2 separate regions of the Homo sapiens genome follow, and region 1 is linked to region 2. Evidence: fine-mapped expression QTL. Tissue or cell type: whole blood. Region 2 holds a variant in brackets; the other region holds the start of a gene. All regions are shown on one strand. Distances are between the middles of the regions.

Region 1 (6,908 bases), 60 kb before region 2:
CACACCGTTGTTCGCGTTTCCGACCCCGCAGATTCCCCAAGGCGCGCCCTAACGAACTCTCACTCCCCTGGTCCGGGCTCCCTTCTCCGGGATTCCGGTAACCCTATCTGTCCCTGTCTGCAGCCGCGCCGCGCGGAACCCTGCCGGGAGCCCCTACGGAGGCGCCAAATACACAAAGGGTAGTTGGCGGGGAGGCGCACCATGACTACAGCTCCGGGACCTGCGCTTCACCCCCACGGCGCCCCCGTGGGGCCTTGGTGCGCGCGCCCTGGCTGGACCCTCCTAGCTGCGAGAGTGCACGGGTAGTGACCAGCCCAGGCACCTGGGAATCCATCAGCTGTCATCCAATCCTTTAATTACCTTGATTGAGCTCCTTACTGTGGCCAAGCATTGCTTGATTTATTTATTTACTTATTTTTATTATTTAATTTAATTTTTTTTTTTTTGAGACGGTGTCTCGCCTTGTCACCCAGGTTGGAGTGCAATGGCGCAATCTCAGCTCACTGCAACCTCCGCCTCCCGGGTTCAAGCGATTCTCCCGCCTCAGCCTCCCAGGTACCTGGGATTACAGGTGTGCACAAACAGTATTTTTAGTAGAGACAGGGTTTCATCATGTTGGCCAGGCTGCTCTCGAACTCCTGACCTCAGGTGATACGCCCGCCTGGCCTCCCAAACTTCTGGGATTACAGGCGTCAGCCACCGCGCCTGGCCACTTGTTCTTTCTTTCATTCTTTCCTTCACTTGCCAAGGTTCTGGAGACCCACAGAGAGCCCATACTGTCCTCCCGAGACTCCTTTTTGGGAGGGCAACCCACATCTGGGAACTGTGCCCCAGGACAGGATGCAAAGGCACAACAGAGATGGCAGAATCCTGATGTCTGTGCTCTTAAAGGAGGCGTGAAAACAGGCAGGCCAGGCGCAGTGACTAAGGCCTGTAATCCCAGCACTTTGGGAGGCCCACGTGGGTAGATTGCTTGAGGTCAGGAGTTTGAGACCAGCCTGGCCAATGGTGACACCCCAGCTCTGCTAAAAATCCAGAAAATTAGCCGGGCATGTTGGCAGGCACCTGTAATCCCAGCTACTTGAAGCCGGGAGGCAGCCTGGGAGACAGAGCAAGACTTTGTCTCAAAAAAAAAATTTTAAAATGTTTTAAAAATACTTGCTCGGGCCACACCCCAGACTGATTAAGTCAGAGTTTCTTGTAGGTTCTGTTTTTTGTTTTGTTTTTTTTTAGATGGAGTTTTGCTCTGTCACCCAGACTGGAGTGCAGTGGAGCCATCTCGTCTCACTGCAACCTCCGCCTCCTGGGTTCAAGCAATTCTCCTGCCTCAGCCTCCCAAGTAGCCAAGATTACAGGCATGCGCCACCACGCCGAGCTAATTTTTGTATTTTTAGTAGAGATGGGGTTTCTCCATGTTGCCCAGGCTGGTCTTGAACTCCCAACCTCAGGTGATCAACCTCAGGTGATCCACCCGACTCAGCCTCCCAAAGTGCTGGGATTACAGGCGTGAGCCACACTGCCCAACCGCCGGTTCTTTTTTTTTTTTTTTTAACTGTTCAGGCAATTCCAACATGTGCTCAAACTGAAAACCAGGGCTCTCTACTCTCTTAGCAGGTGTTTTCTCCCTTTGTCTACCGTGACGGAGATTACTGATCTCCTGTGGGCTGAGCTCTGTGGTCAGGGCTTGTCCTTATCTGGCCAGTCCTCGGCACCACAAGTGACTGCCTTCACCCCCTCTTGGCCCCTGTCTCTGTCTCCTGGTTCCTCTTCTCTCTACTACCTCTAACCTCTGGGAATCTGGTGTGTCCTCGGGTCCTCAGACCCCCTCACTCCTCCAGAACTGCAAAGCCTTTTTTTTTTTTTTTTTTTGAGATGGAGTCTCTCTCTGTCACCCAGCATGGAGTACAGTGGCGTGATCTTGACTCTGCAACCTCCGCCTTCAGGGTTCAAGTGATTCTCCCACCCCAGCCTCCCAAGCAGCTGGGACCACAGGCGTGCACCATCACACCTGGCTAATTTTATATTTTTTGTAGAGATGGAGTCTTGCTACATTGCCCAAGCTGGTCTTGAACTCCTGGGCTCAAGTGATCCTCCTGCCTCAGCCTCCCAAAGTGTTAGGATTACAGGCGTGAGCCACCGTGCGTGGCCCAGGTGCAAGGCCTTTGACACCACTCACCCACCGACCCCCAAATCTGCTGTACCAGCTAAGCTTTCTGCCCAGGGCGGCAGCCTGGGACATCCATGGCCTGTGATATCTGCCCCAGAACAAGTGAGTCCTGCTCAGAGCCGGGAATTGGATTTCATGGAAGTGTTGAAATGAGGAAGGCGGATGAGCCAACCAGGGCAGACAGCAGAGGCCTCACCCGGTCACATGGGCCCCCACGTCCTGGGCCTCTGGGCCTCCCCAGGAGCCTCCTAAACCCCAGAGCTGTCCGTACCCCTGATCTGCTGAGATCTCCCCATCCTGTGGCTCTCTAGCCCAGGAGGTCACCAGGGCCTGGCATGGAGTCCTCCCTGGAGTCCAGAGATGGGGACACCAAAGTAGTAGGAATGATGGGGACTATAGAGAGTAAGAAACTAGTTGGCCAGGCGTGGTTGCTCACGCCTGTAGTCCCAGCACTTTGGGAGGCCGAGGCGGGCAGATCATCTGAGGTTGGGAGTTTGAGACCAGCCTGACCAACATGGTGAAACCCCGTCTCTACTAAAAATACAAAAAATTAGCCGGCAGTGGTGGCACATGCATGTAATTCCAGCTACTCAGGAGACTGAGGCAGGACAATCGCTTGAACCTGGGAGGCGGAGGTTGCAGTGAGTCGAGATTGCGCCACTACACTCCAGCCTGGGCAACAAAGTGATACCCCGTCTCAAAAAAAAAAAAAAAAAAAAAAAAAAGAAAGAAACTAGTGACCATGTTAGGAACATGCGGGCAACCAGTGCCCCAAGCTTGGGACAGTAGCAGGCAGGACAGGAATTCAAGCGAAATAGAAGTGCCCAGCAGGGGCCGGGGCAGTGGCTCACACCTGTAATCCCAGCACTTTGGTAGGCCGAGGCGGACCGATCCCTTGAGGTCAGGAGTTTGAGACCAGCCTGCCCAACATGGTGAAACCCCTTCTCTACTAAAGATACGAAAAGTAGCCAGGAGCGGTGGTGCGCGCCTGTAATCCCAGCTACTCAGGAGGTTGATGCAAAAGAATTGCCTGAACCCGGGAGGCAGAGGTTGCAGTGAGCCGAGATGGCACCATGGCACTCCAGCCTGGGCGACAGAGCAAGACTCAGTCTCAAAAAAAAAGAAGTGGCTGGCAGGATCTGGAGACGGACTGGAGCCTCCCCACCTCCTTCCCTTCCTCCTCTGCCCTCCCCCGCCCCACCTCTAGCAGCCCCCACCCTGTGTGCTGACCGTGGAGCAGAAGCCACAGTCACTTCCTGAAGGCAGCGGCCCCAGCTCGGGTCCCACTCATCCCATGGCCCATCACCTGCCTGCAGCCATGGTGAGTGCTGGAAGAGGCCTGTGCCTCACTGGCTGGGAAGCAAGGGACACAGATGTTCCCAGAAGGATAGGATCCACCTGTGGAGGGGCGGGCGGGGGGGCGGGGGGTGGCTGCGAAAGACATCTGGGAAACGGGAAGGGTCGGCAAAAAGGACCCGAGGTAGGCGGCCACCAGGCACACCCCAGGACAGCGCGGGCTCCTGGGGGTTCACGCTCAGGTTGGGACTGCGAGGGGGACAGATGGGACTCCCCGGGGGGACAACTCCCGTCTCCCCAGGTCAACATGAGCAGCCATGTGGGAACGGGCTGCTGGGGTGAGAGCAGTGCTTTCCTGCGGGGTGACAAAGTGGGTCATGACCCTCCCCCGTCCAGTCACCCAAGTTGTGACCTGCTAACCCTGACTTATCTAGCCCTGTGGTCGCCCGGGAGCACTTCCTTCAAACCACTCGGGGCTTTGACAGGGGCACTTCAGGCCCCAGGTGGGAATTGCTGCCTTTCCAAGGAGCAATCCTGGTCTCTGGTCCTCTGGATGGGGAAAGTGAGGCACACGCAGGAAGCAAAGGCCACACGTTTCTGCCCTTTCCCTCCCCCAATCTCCTTGACCACAGGTGAAAGGGGCGTTTGTAGGACTAAGGAGGCCTGGCCTTCTTGTGAATCTGCCTACCTCTGTGAGGAGTGGTTGCAGGGCCAGCTAGGAGGGCAGCTGGGACAGCTGGGTATGCAGGAGACAGCGCCTGTGCCCACGGTGTCTGCACCAATCCTCTCAGGCACTGTCAACTGTGAGCATTCCTGACCATCAGCCCGCATGTCAGAGACGGTGTGAGAGGGACCGCATGGCCGTCTCCAGGCATCTCTGTGTTTTCCTGATGGTCAGGCTGAGTACATGGCTGTCTTTGTGCTGCCTGAATATTGTTTATTTCAGCAAATATTTACTGAGCACCTACCATGTTCCAGGCCCTGGGAAGACAGCAATGAATGAGCCAAGTCTCTGCCTTGCAGAGGCTGAGGAACTGAGGGAAGTTGTGGTGTAGAGAGACAAAAAAAAAAAAAAAAAAAAATCAAGACACATTAAAAACAATGTAAAATAGTATAATACGTAGGGGTGGGTACGATGGAGAAAATCATGCATGCTGAATGCAGGGCAGTAGTGGGATGGGGTGATCCATTTAAAATAGGGTGGTCTAGGCCAGGCGTGATGGCTCATGCACTTTGGGAGGCCGAGGTGGGTGGATCACTTGAGGTCAGGAGTTCGAGACCAGCCTGGCCAACATGGTAAAACCCTGTTTCCATTAAAAATACAAAAAAAATTAGCCAGGCGTCGTGGCAGACACCTGTGATCCCAGCTACTCAGGAGGCTGAGAATCGCTTGAACCCAGGAGGCGGAGGTTGCAGTATGGCGAGATTCCACCACTGCATTCCAACCTGGGTGACAGAGTGAGACTCCGTCTCAAAAAAAAAAAAAAAAAAGAAAGAAAGAAAAATAGGGTGGTCTAGGTTGGGCACGGTGGCTCACACCTGTAATCCCAGCACTTTGGGAGGCTGAGGCGGGTGGAGGGTGGATCACCTGAGGTCGTGAGTTTGAGACCAGCCTGGCCAACGTGGTGAAACCCTGTCTCTAGTTAAAATACAAAAATTAGCCAGGTGTGGTGGCGAGTGCCTGTAATCCCAGCTACTTGGGCGGCTGAGGCACGAGAATCATTTGAACCTGGGAAGTGGAGATTGCAGTGAGCCGAGATCGCGCCATTGCACTCCAGTCTGGGTGACAGAGCAAGACTCCATCTCAAAAAATAAAAATAAACAAATAGGGTGGCCTTGGATGGCCTCTCTAATAAGAAAATATGAGAACAGAGGCTGGGAGGAGGAAAAGGAGAGACCCAGGTGGTGCAGAGACATGTCCTGGGTCAGGGACAGGGCAGAGGCCCCGAGGTCGGAGGGAAGTGTTCAGGGTGCAGGGAGGAGAAGGTGGCTGGGTAGGGAGGCTGGTTCGCCCAGGCTTTTATGAGGCATTTAGCTTGAACTGTGGGGACATGAGGAAGCATTGCCGAGTTTTGAGCAGAGGGACACAAACAGACTCAGGGTTCAACAGGCTTCTCCCTCCAGCTGCCATGGGGGGAACTGACCAGGGAAGGGGGTAGGCAGAGGCCCAGGGAAGGGCTTGTTAGAGTAATCCAGGCAATTGGTTGGGGGAGGGCAGACACTGCCTCCCACTACCTCCTGGGGTGACAGTGGTGAAGGCAGTGAGAAGTGGTTGGATTCCGGATGTGTTTTGAAATTAGCACAGAAGGGACTGGGGGCCTGGGCGCGGCGGCTCAAGCCTGTAATCCCAGCTACTGGGGAGGCCGAGGTCGGGGGAATCATTGGAGCCCAGGAGTTGCAAGCTGCAGTGAGCTATGATTGCACCACTGCTCTCCAGCCTGGGCAATGGAACGAGACTGGAGACATGCAGTGGGAGGGGTGAAAGAATGAGGGGGTCAAGGATGCTGGGGGGGTGGGGTACCACCCATGGGGGGAGGGCAGTGGGACTGGAGGCTGCAGGAGGGATGTCGGGATCTCCAGTGCTGCTAGAGGAGGTTGGGTGTGGAATCAGCACTAAATGGAGAAGTAGGGAGGGGTGTCGGTCCCAGGATCCTAGGATCCATGGGGGCTCCTGGGAAAGAGCTGAGGGCTGACCGGGCCTGGGCGCAGGGGTGGTGGTTGTGGGCTGTGCCTGAGGGTCCCCAGGCCCATCCTTCCATGCCCCTTCTGTGTGTTTGAGCCCCTGCCTCATTGGCTCTGCGTCTCCTAGGAGAGCCATCAGGACTTCCGGAGCATCAAAGCAAAGTTCCAGGCCTCTCAGCCGGAGCCCAGCGACCTGCCCAAAAAACCTCCGAAGCCTGAGTTTGGTAAACTGAAGAAGTTCTCCCAGCCTGAGCTAAGCGAGCACCCCAAGAAGGCCCCGCTGCCTGAGTTTGGTGCAGTGTCCTTGAAGCCCCCGCCGCCTGAGGTCACTGACCTCCCCAAGAAGCCCCCGCCGCCTGAGGTCACTGACCTCCCCAAGAAGCCCCCGCCGCCTGAGGTCACTGACCTCCCCAAGAAGCCCCCGCCGCCTGAGGTCACTGACCTCCCCAAGAAGCCGTCCAAACTGGAGTTGAGTGACCTCTCCAAGAAGTTCCCACAGCTGGGGGCCACTCCGTTTCCAAGGAAGCCCCTGCAGCCTGAGGTCGGTGAGGCCCCTTTGAAGGCCTCGCTGCCGGAGCCTGGTGCGCCGGCCCGGAAACCCCTGCAGCCCGACGAACTCAGTCACCCCGCCAGACCCCCCTCCGAACCCAAATCCGGCGCATTCCCCAGGAAGCTCTGGCAACCCGAGGCCGGTGAGGCTACCCCGAGGTCCCCGCAGCCTGAGTTGAGTACCTTTCCCAAGAAGCCTGCGCAGCCTGAGTTC
Region 2 (7,832 bases):
TCAGGAGGCTGAGATGGAAGGATCGATTGAGCCCAGGAGTTCGAGGCTGCAGTGATCTGTGATCGTGCCACTGCATCCCAGCTTGGGTAACAGAGGGAGACCCTGTCTCAAAGAAAAAAATTAAATATATAAGTGCTCAACCGCATTCACTTTTAATCTCCATAAACTAAGCTTCACACATTACAATATGAGGAAGGCAAAGTCACAGACAGAAAGGAAAGAAAACGGAGGGAGTTAGTATTTAATAGCTACACTTTCTGTTTCCGATGATGAAAAAGTTCTGGACATGAAGCAGTGACGGTTACAGCACACTGAGTCAGTATACTCAATGCCACTGAATTATACGCTTAAAAAATGGTTAAAATGGCAAAGTCTACGTTATGTCTATTTTACCACAATGAAATAAATGTCTGGGAAATTCAATGTGTACCCAGGCTTCCCCTTCCTTCCCGGCCGCTGATCTTGGAGCCAAAACCTCTCTGTCTCTCTTAAGTGTCTGTAATCAGAATGAATGAGTTTCACCGGGGCACAAGTCGATGCTTCCTCCTTTAAAGAAACTTTTAAAAGCCAAGGAGTCAAAGAGCCCCAAGCAGGACTCGAAAAGCTGATGAAGTCTGGAAGTAAATGAACCCGCCTCCTGACAGAACAGCTTCCCCGAAACACGGGAAAAAGGGGATTCCTCCCCCGACTTCGTATCTGTCTGCTTCCGAGGGTGAACGCTAAGCAGCAGATCCCATCTCTCCACTAATACCTGCGGCGCACCCGGGGAGGAGGAGCGGGAAACGGCGAGGGACTTGAGCCAGGGCCAGAGCGTGGGGCGAGGGGCGGTTCCGAGGGAGGCACTTCCCGCGGAGCGCGGTCGGCGCGCGGGGACTAAGGGGCGGGGCAGGAGGGGAGCCCCCCGACCCGGCTTCGCGGCCCTTCCTGACGCTTCCCTCGCTCGGTTACCGTTGACTCGGGCTGACTGCGCGCGAGGCCTCCCGGGCGCGCACCCTCTCTCCTCCCCCCACGTTACGGATCAGAAAACAGACCCCGGGAGGAGAGGGGACGGGGGGCTGAAACCCGGCCCCCGAGGTCACCCTCCCGGGGAGCGGTCGGGTAGGCCTCGGAGGCTCTCCGGTCCGGGCCCGCGCCATCAACCCCCATGCGCAGCAGCTGGGCCTGAGGCCTCGACTACGGGGTTGGCCCCGGCCTGGAGGGACTGAGGGTGGCGAGGCTCGAGGCCCGGTGTAGGGGACGATTCTGGAGGCTCCCCCGGCTCCCCGCTCACGGCCCTAGACGCCGCTACCCTGAGCAGGCGGTACGGGAACAGCCGGGGCCGAGGCCGCGCCGGGGCTAGGCCGCCAACAGACCTAACGGAGCCGCCGCCCGCGTCGGCCGCGGAGAGGAACCCTTACCCGTGGCAAAGGACCGTGGGATACTCACCCCTTAGGGCCCGGAGCCCCGTTGCCGCTCGGCACGCCGGGCGCGCCGCTCTCTTCCTCCATTTTGATCTCCGTCGCCGCCACCTCCGCCGCCGCTTCGACCCCTGCCGCCATTTTCTCCGCGTCTGGGCTTTGTGTGAGCGAACGGGCTGCACCGCGCTGCGCCTGCGCGCCCACGTGACCCGACGCAACCAGTAACACCTGCGCCCGCCGCTCCCGGCTGCCTCCTTGGCCCCACTCGCCCCGGGCCACGCCCCCGCCGCGCGCAGGCGCAGACCGGCAGCTGTTGATCGCTTCTCTCTCGAGATACACTCGCGTTAGGCACCGACTGGCTGTTCCCGGCGCGCGTCCTCTGAGTCCGATAGAGGAGGCATCTCCCCACCCCACCCCACACAAACACCTAGACCTAGTCACTCTCAGCTTTCTGTAACCAGAGCTGGAGCAGAGGGGAAGCAATGATCCTGTCTAGAGATTCCTGGAAGTTTTAGATGAAGCTTGTTCAACCCGCGGTCCGGCACACGATTCGTAAACTTTCTTAAAACATTGTGTCTTTTTGTGTGATTTTTTTCTTTTTGTAACGCAATTGCGCGGTTCTCCAGCGCGAACTTTGTAGGCAACAACGGAACGGCATGGAATAATATCAGAGTATTATCCGTAATTCGCATTATAATTGCAAACAGTTCGTCCAGAAGAAACGGAAAACTGTTAAAATTCACTAATAATGGGGCCAGGCGCGATGGCTCACTCCTGTAATCCCAGCACTTTGGGTATGGGAGGCCGAGGCGGCGGATCACCTGAGGTCAGGAGTTCGAGACCAGACTGGCCAACATGGTGAAACCGCGTCTCTACTAAAAATAAAAAAATTAGCTGGACGTGGTGGCGGGCGCCTGTAATCCCAGCTACTCGGGAGGCTGAAGCAGGAGAATCGCTTGAACCCAGGAGCCGGAGGTTGCAGTGAGCCGAGATCACGCCACTGCACCGCAGCCTGGGAGATAGACTGAGACTCCATCTCAAAAAACAAAAAGATAAGTATTGAGTACTGGGCTTAATACCTGGGTGATGAAATAATCTGTACAACAAACCTCCATGACAAGTGTTTACCTATTTAACAAACCTTCACATTTACCCCCAAACCTAAAAGTTAAAAACAAAATTAAAAAAAAAATTAATGGCTGGGCGCGGCAGCTCACGCCTGTAATCCTACCACTTTGAGAGGCCAAGGCGGGTGGATCACGAGGTCAAGAGATCAGACCATCCTGGCCAACATGATGAAACCCTGTCTCTACTAAAAATACAAAAATTAGCCGGGTGTGGTGGCAGGCGCCCATAATCCCAGCTACTGGGGAGCCTGAGGCAGGAGAATCGCTTCAACCCAGGAGGAGGAGGTTGCAGTGAGCCAAGATCGGGCCACTGCACTCCAGCCTGGTCACAGAGTGAGACCCCATCTCAAAAAAATTAAAAATAATAATAAAGAGCGAGAGGACTCTTGCAATGTTGCATAAAGTGAACTGTGACAGAATTCAGGGTGTATTCTGTACTAGGCATAATGCTGTATGGTCTTATTTTTGTGTGCATTCGTGGCATCAGTTTTATGGTGCTGTGCAGCCTCCAATGTGCCATTTTCCAAGTGCAGACAGTCGAATTGGCACCATCAGATGTTACGTGTGCTTGTGGCAACTTGGGCAGTAAGATGCAGCGATTATCTTTTTGAGACGGAGTTTCGCTCTTGTTGCCCAGACTGGAGTGCAATGGCGCCATCTCGGCTCGCTGCAACCTCCGCCTCCTGGGTTCAAGCGATTCTCCTGTCTCAGCCTCCCGAGTAGCTGGGATTACAGGTGCATGCCACCACGCCCGGCTAACTTTTGTATTTTTAGTAGAGACAAGGTTTCATCATATTGGTCAGGCTGGTCTCGAACTCCTGACCTCGTGATCCGCCTGCCTCAGGCTCCCAAAGTGCTGCGATTGTAGGCGTAAACCACTGCGCCTGGCCTTCAATGCAGCGATTATCAATAATATATTTTTTTCTTTTTTTGGAGACAGTCTTGCTCTGTCACAGAGGCTGGAG[T/G]GCAGTGGCACCATCTCAGCTCACTGCAACCTCCGCCTCCTGATTTCAAGCGATTCTTCTGCATCAGCTTTCCAAGTATCTGGGATTACAGGTGCACACCACGACGCCTGGCTAAGTTTTGTATTTTTTAGTAGAGATGGGGTTTTGCCATGCTGGCCAAACTAGTCTCAAACTCCTGACCTCAGGTGATCTGCCCACCTCAGCCTCCCAAAGTGCTGGGATTACAGGTGTGAGTCACCGTGCCCAGCCTATCAATAATATTTCAATCTACCTTTGTAAATGATAGCTCACTGCAACCTTGAACTCCTGAACTCAAGCGATCCTCCCCTGCTTAGCCTGTCAAGTAGCTGGGACTGTAGGTGCACGCCGCTGCACTTGGCTAATTTTTTATTTTTATTTTTTGGTACAGATAGGGTCTTGCCGTTTTTCCCAGGATGGTCTCGAACTCCTGAGCTCAAGGGATCCTACAGCCTTGGCCTCCCACAGTGCTGGGATTATAAGCGTGAGCCACTGTGCTGGTCCTTAGAGGATTATTAAAGACAGGTTAACACCAAACTAAAACTCTTCTCTATGAAAGTATTAGAATAGATTTGCAAAGAAAACACTTTTCCTTCTCTCTCTCTCTGTTTCTTTCTCTTTTTGTAGAGACAGGGTCTTGCTATGTTGGCCAGGCTGGTCTCTAACTCCCAGCCTTCAAGCAATCCTCCTGCCTTGGCCTCCTAAAGTGCTGGGATTTCAGGCATGAGTCACCCCATCTCGTCTCTCTCTTCCTCATGGCATGTCCTGAGGCATCTGTACATCAACTCCTGGGGCACCACAGGCCAAAGTTGGCCTGAGGAAAGATGGGTGTCAGGCTGTGTAGGGAGTTCAGCTGCAGGAGCAAGGAAGGCCCCCCCAAGGGGCAGGAGAGCTCATGCGCACTGGTGTGATGCTCCGTTTTTGCAGACCACTGGTGCGTCAGTCACCCCATGCCTAGGAGGCCCTGCCCATCTCTCCAGCCACCTGCCCCTCAATCACACTGCTCCAGCCCTGGGGTTCCTCCCTGCTGCTCTTCCTACAGGCTAAGCAGTTTCCAGCCTCTGGGCCTTTGTGCTTAGCTGTTTCCTCCACTCCCATGGCCACACAGGCTTCTCCTTGCCCTTCCAGTCCAGGCAGAAAGTTTTTCTTCCTTTGTGAGTGAGCTACATACCAGGCAGGGATTCATATGGAAAACAGACCTTGAGCAATCAGCTCCTCCACTCTGAGGCTCAGTTTGCTTAACTGAAAATATGGATAATAAGAAATGCAATGCACCAGGCTGGGCACGGTGGCTCACGCCTGTAATCCTAGCAGTTTGAGAGGCCGAGTCAGGTGGATCATTTGAGGTCAGGAGTTCAATACCAGCCTGGCCAATATGGCGAAACCCCATCTGTACTAAAAATACAGAAATTAGCCAGGCATGATGGTTGGCGCCTGTAGTCCCAGCTACTCAGGAGGCTGAGACAGGATAATTGCTTGAACTCGGGAGGTGGAGGTTGCAGTGAGCAGAGATAGTGCCACTGCGCTCTAGCCTGGGCAACAGGGCGAGACTCCGTCGAAAGAAAGAAAGAAAAGAAAGAGAGAGAGAGAGAGAGAGAAAGAAAGAAAGGCACCAGAACTCACCTTTCAGGGTTGCCCTGAGCTTTAAAAGCAGACAGATGCCAAGAGCCTTTAAATATAAAAGAATCGGCAGGCAGAAAGCGCTGAAGAAGTAGGTGTTGTTATTAGATTAACTGCATTCTGGGCCAGGCTCGGTGGCTCACGCCTGTAATCCCAGCACTTTAGGGGGCCGAGGTAGGTGAATCACCTGAGGTCAGGAGTTCGAGACCAGCCTGGTCAACATGACAAGACTTCATCTCTACTAAAAATACAAAACTTAGCTGCCTGTGGTCCCAGCTACTTGGGAGGCTGAGGCAAGAGAGAATCACTTGAACCCGGGAGGCAGAGGTTGCAGTAAGCCAAGATCACCAAGATCACGCCACTGCTCTCCAACCTGGGTGATGGAGTAAGACTCTGTTTCAAAAAAAAAAAAAAAAAAAAAAAAAAACACGTATTCTGCATCTTTCCTGAGTCTTCCTCCAAAAGGAGTCCTGGTGTCACCCCGGCTCCACTTCCTACAGCTCTGAGACCTTAGATTAAGGCTTCCCTGCCCTGGGCCTCAGTCTTCTCACCTGTAAAATGTAGGTAATAACCACTTCTTCCCTAACAAGTGACAGTCAAAGGAGGGAGAGACTCGGAACTATGCCTAATCTATAGTCACCCTAAGTCAGCGTGGATATTGTCACCATTTTTAAAAAATTGTTTGTTTGCTTTAGAGACAGGGTCTTGCCCTGTTGCCTAGAATAGACAACAGAAGTATAATTATAGCTCACTGCAGCCTGGAACTCCTGGATTCAAGGGATCCTCCCACCTCAGCCTCCTGAGTAACTGTGACCACAGGTGCATGCCACCATGCCCAGCTAATATATATATATTTATATATTTATTTATTTAGTAAAGACAGGGTCTCACTATGTTGCCAAGGCTGGTCTCAAACTCCTAGGCTCAACTGATCCTCCTGCCGAAGCCTCCCAAAATGCTGGGATTACAGGCATCAGCCACCAGGCCTGGCCCATGCTGGACTCTCTACACTTAACTAAAAACTAACAGTGGCTAGGCGCAGTGGTGCATGCCTGTTGTCCCAGCTGCCAGGGAGGCTGAGACAGGATTGCCTGAGCCCAGGAGGTCGAGGCTGGAGTGAGCTGTGTGATTGTGCCTCTGCACTCCAATCTGGGTGACAGAGCAAGACCCCATCTCAAAAAAAGAAAAACAGAGGCCAGCATGGTCTGTGGACTGGCAGATGCAAAGTAAGAGGAAATTGTTCTTATGTCTATTTTATTTTTCTATTTTTTATTTTTTGAGACAGAGTTTCACGATGTCACCCAGTCTGAAATGCAGTGGTGCAACTGATCTCAGCTAACTGCAACCTCTGTCTCCCAGGTTCAAGCCATTCTCCTGCCTCAGCCTCCCGAGTAGCTGGGATTACAGGTGTGCGTCTCCACGCCCAGCTAATTTTTGTATTTTTAGTAGAGATGGGGTTTCACCATGTTGGCCAGGCTGGTCTCGAACTCCTGACCTCAGGTGATCCACCCATCTCGGCCTCTCAAAGTGTGATTACAGGCATGAGCCACCATGCCCAGCCCGTATGTATATTTTAAAAATCATTTTTATAACCCTGCTACCTGATTTTTACTTGAAGACTGAGCCTTTGCTTCTTCCCATGGGCTTCAGAACAGATCCCTCAAAACAAGCCAGTGGTTTTTATTGTTTTTTATTTTATTTTATTTTTTTTGAGACAGAGTCTCGCTGTCTCACCCAGGCTAGAGTGCAATGGTGCGATCTTGGCTCACGGCAACCCCTGCCTCCCGGGTTCAAGCGATTCTCCTGCCTCAGCCTCCCGAGTAGCTGGGACTACAGGTATCTGCCACCACGCCTGGCTCATGTTGTATTTTTAGTAGAGACGAGATTTAACCATATTGGCTAGGCTGGTCTCGAACTCCTGACCTTGTGATCCGCCCACCTCAGCCTCCCAAAGTGCTGGAATTCCATGCATGAGCCACTGTGCCTGGCCAACCAGTGTTTTTTGTTGTTGTTTTGTTTTGTTTTGTTTTGGAGATGGAGTCTCTCTCTGTCGCCAGGTTGGAGTGCAGTGACGCCATCTCAGCTCACTGCAACCTCCACCTCCCAGGTGCAAGCGATTCTCCTGCATCAGCTTCCTGTGTAGCACCTGGGATTACCGGCGCGCACCACCATGCCCAAGTAATTTTTATATTTTTAGTAGAGACAGGGTTTCACCATGTTAGCCAGGATGGTCTCGATCTCTTGACCTTGTGATCCACCCACCTCAGCCTCCCAAAGTGCTGGGATTACAGGAGTGAGTCACTACACCTGGCTGGCCGCCAGTGTTATTTTTTTACCTCCATGTGGTCCCTCCCTGGGAGGCCTCCTTTGAGAAACATAACTGACAAGTCCATTTTGTCCAGCCAGGGCTCCTTTTATTCATTCAGGGGTGGGTTTTTGAAACGCAGTGCAACTTTTATATAAAGTCGAGGGTGCCAGGAAAGTGGGCCTGCCGGGTGCAGAGAAGCGCAAGAAGCTTGCTGGAATGTTCCAGCTTTAAGGGCGCCCTTGATACACCGGCCACAGCTGCTGGCCCAGAAGGTGCCATGTGGACCTCAGAATGAGATCAGGGTGCCTGCTCCGTCCAGAGCTCAGGACCATGTCCACCTGTCCTCCATATGCAAAAAAAAAAAAAAAAAAACCCTGAAAATATCTTCACACAGGAT

Evidence for each region. PIP is the estimated chance that this variant, and not a neighbour inherited with it, causes the effect.
Region 1: PRAM1 starts here. The variant in region 2 is fine-mapped to the expression of PRAM1 in whole blood (INTERVAL, PIP above 0.99).

The regions. Positions count from the first base shown.
Region 1 is chr19:8,499,145-8,506,052 of GRCh38, reverse strand. PRAM1 (PML-RARA regulated adaptor molecule 1) reads left to right here and starts at 3,413. Exons shown (of 10, transcript NM_032152.5): 1 at 3,413-3,488; 2 at 6,273-6,908. The coding sequence starts at 3,462. RefSeq lists silencers at 1-51, 162-261, 282-331 and enhancers at 1-248, 6,858-6,908.
Region 2 is chr19:8,438,705-8,446,536 of GRCh38, reverse strand. HNRNPM (heterogeneous nuclear ribonucleoprotein M) reads right to left here and starts at 1,562. Exons shown (of 16, transcript NM_005968.5): 1 at 1,426-1,562. The coding sequence starts at 1,538. MARCHF2 (membrane associated ring-CH-type finger 2) reads right to left here. Exons shown (of 5, transcript NM_001005415.2): 5 at 7,520-7,832. RefSeq lists silencers at 1,054-1,283, 1,524-1,803, 4,378-4,672. The variant T/G (reference allele first, on the strand shown) is at 3,490.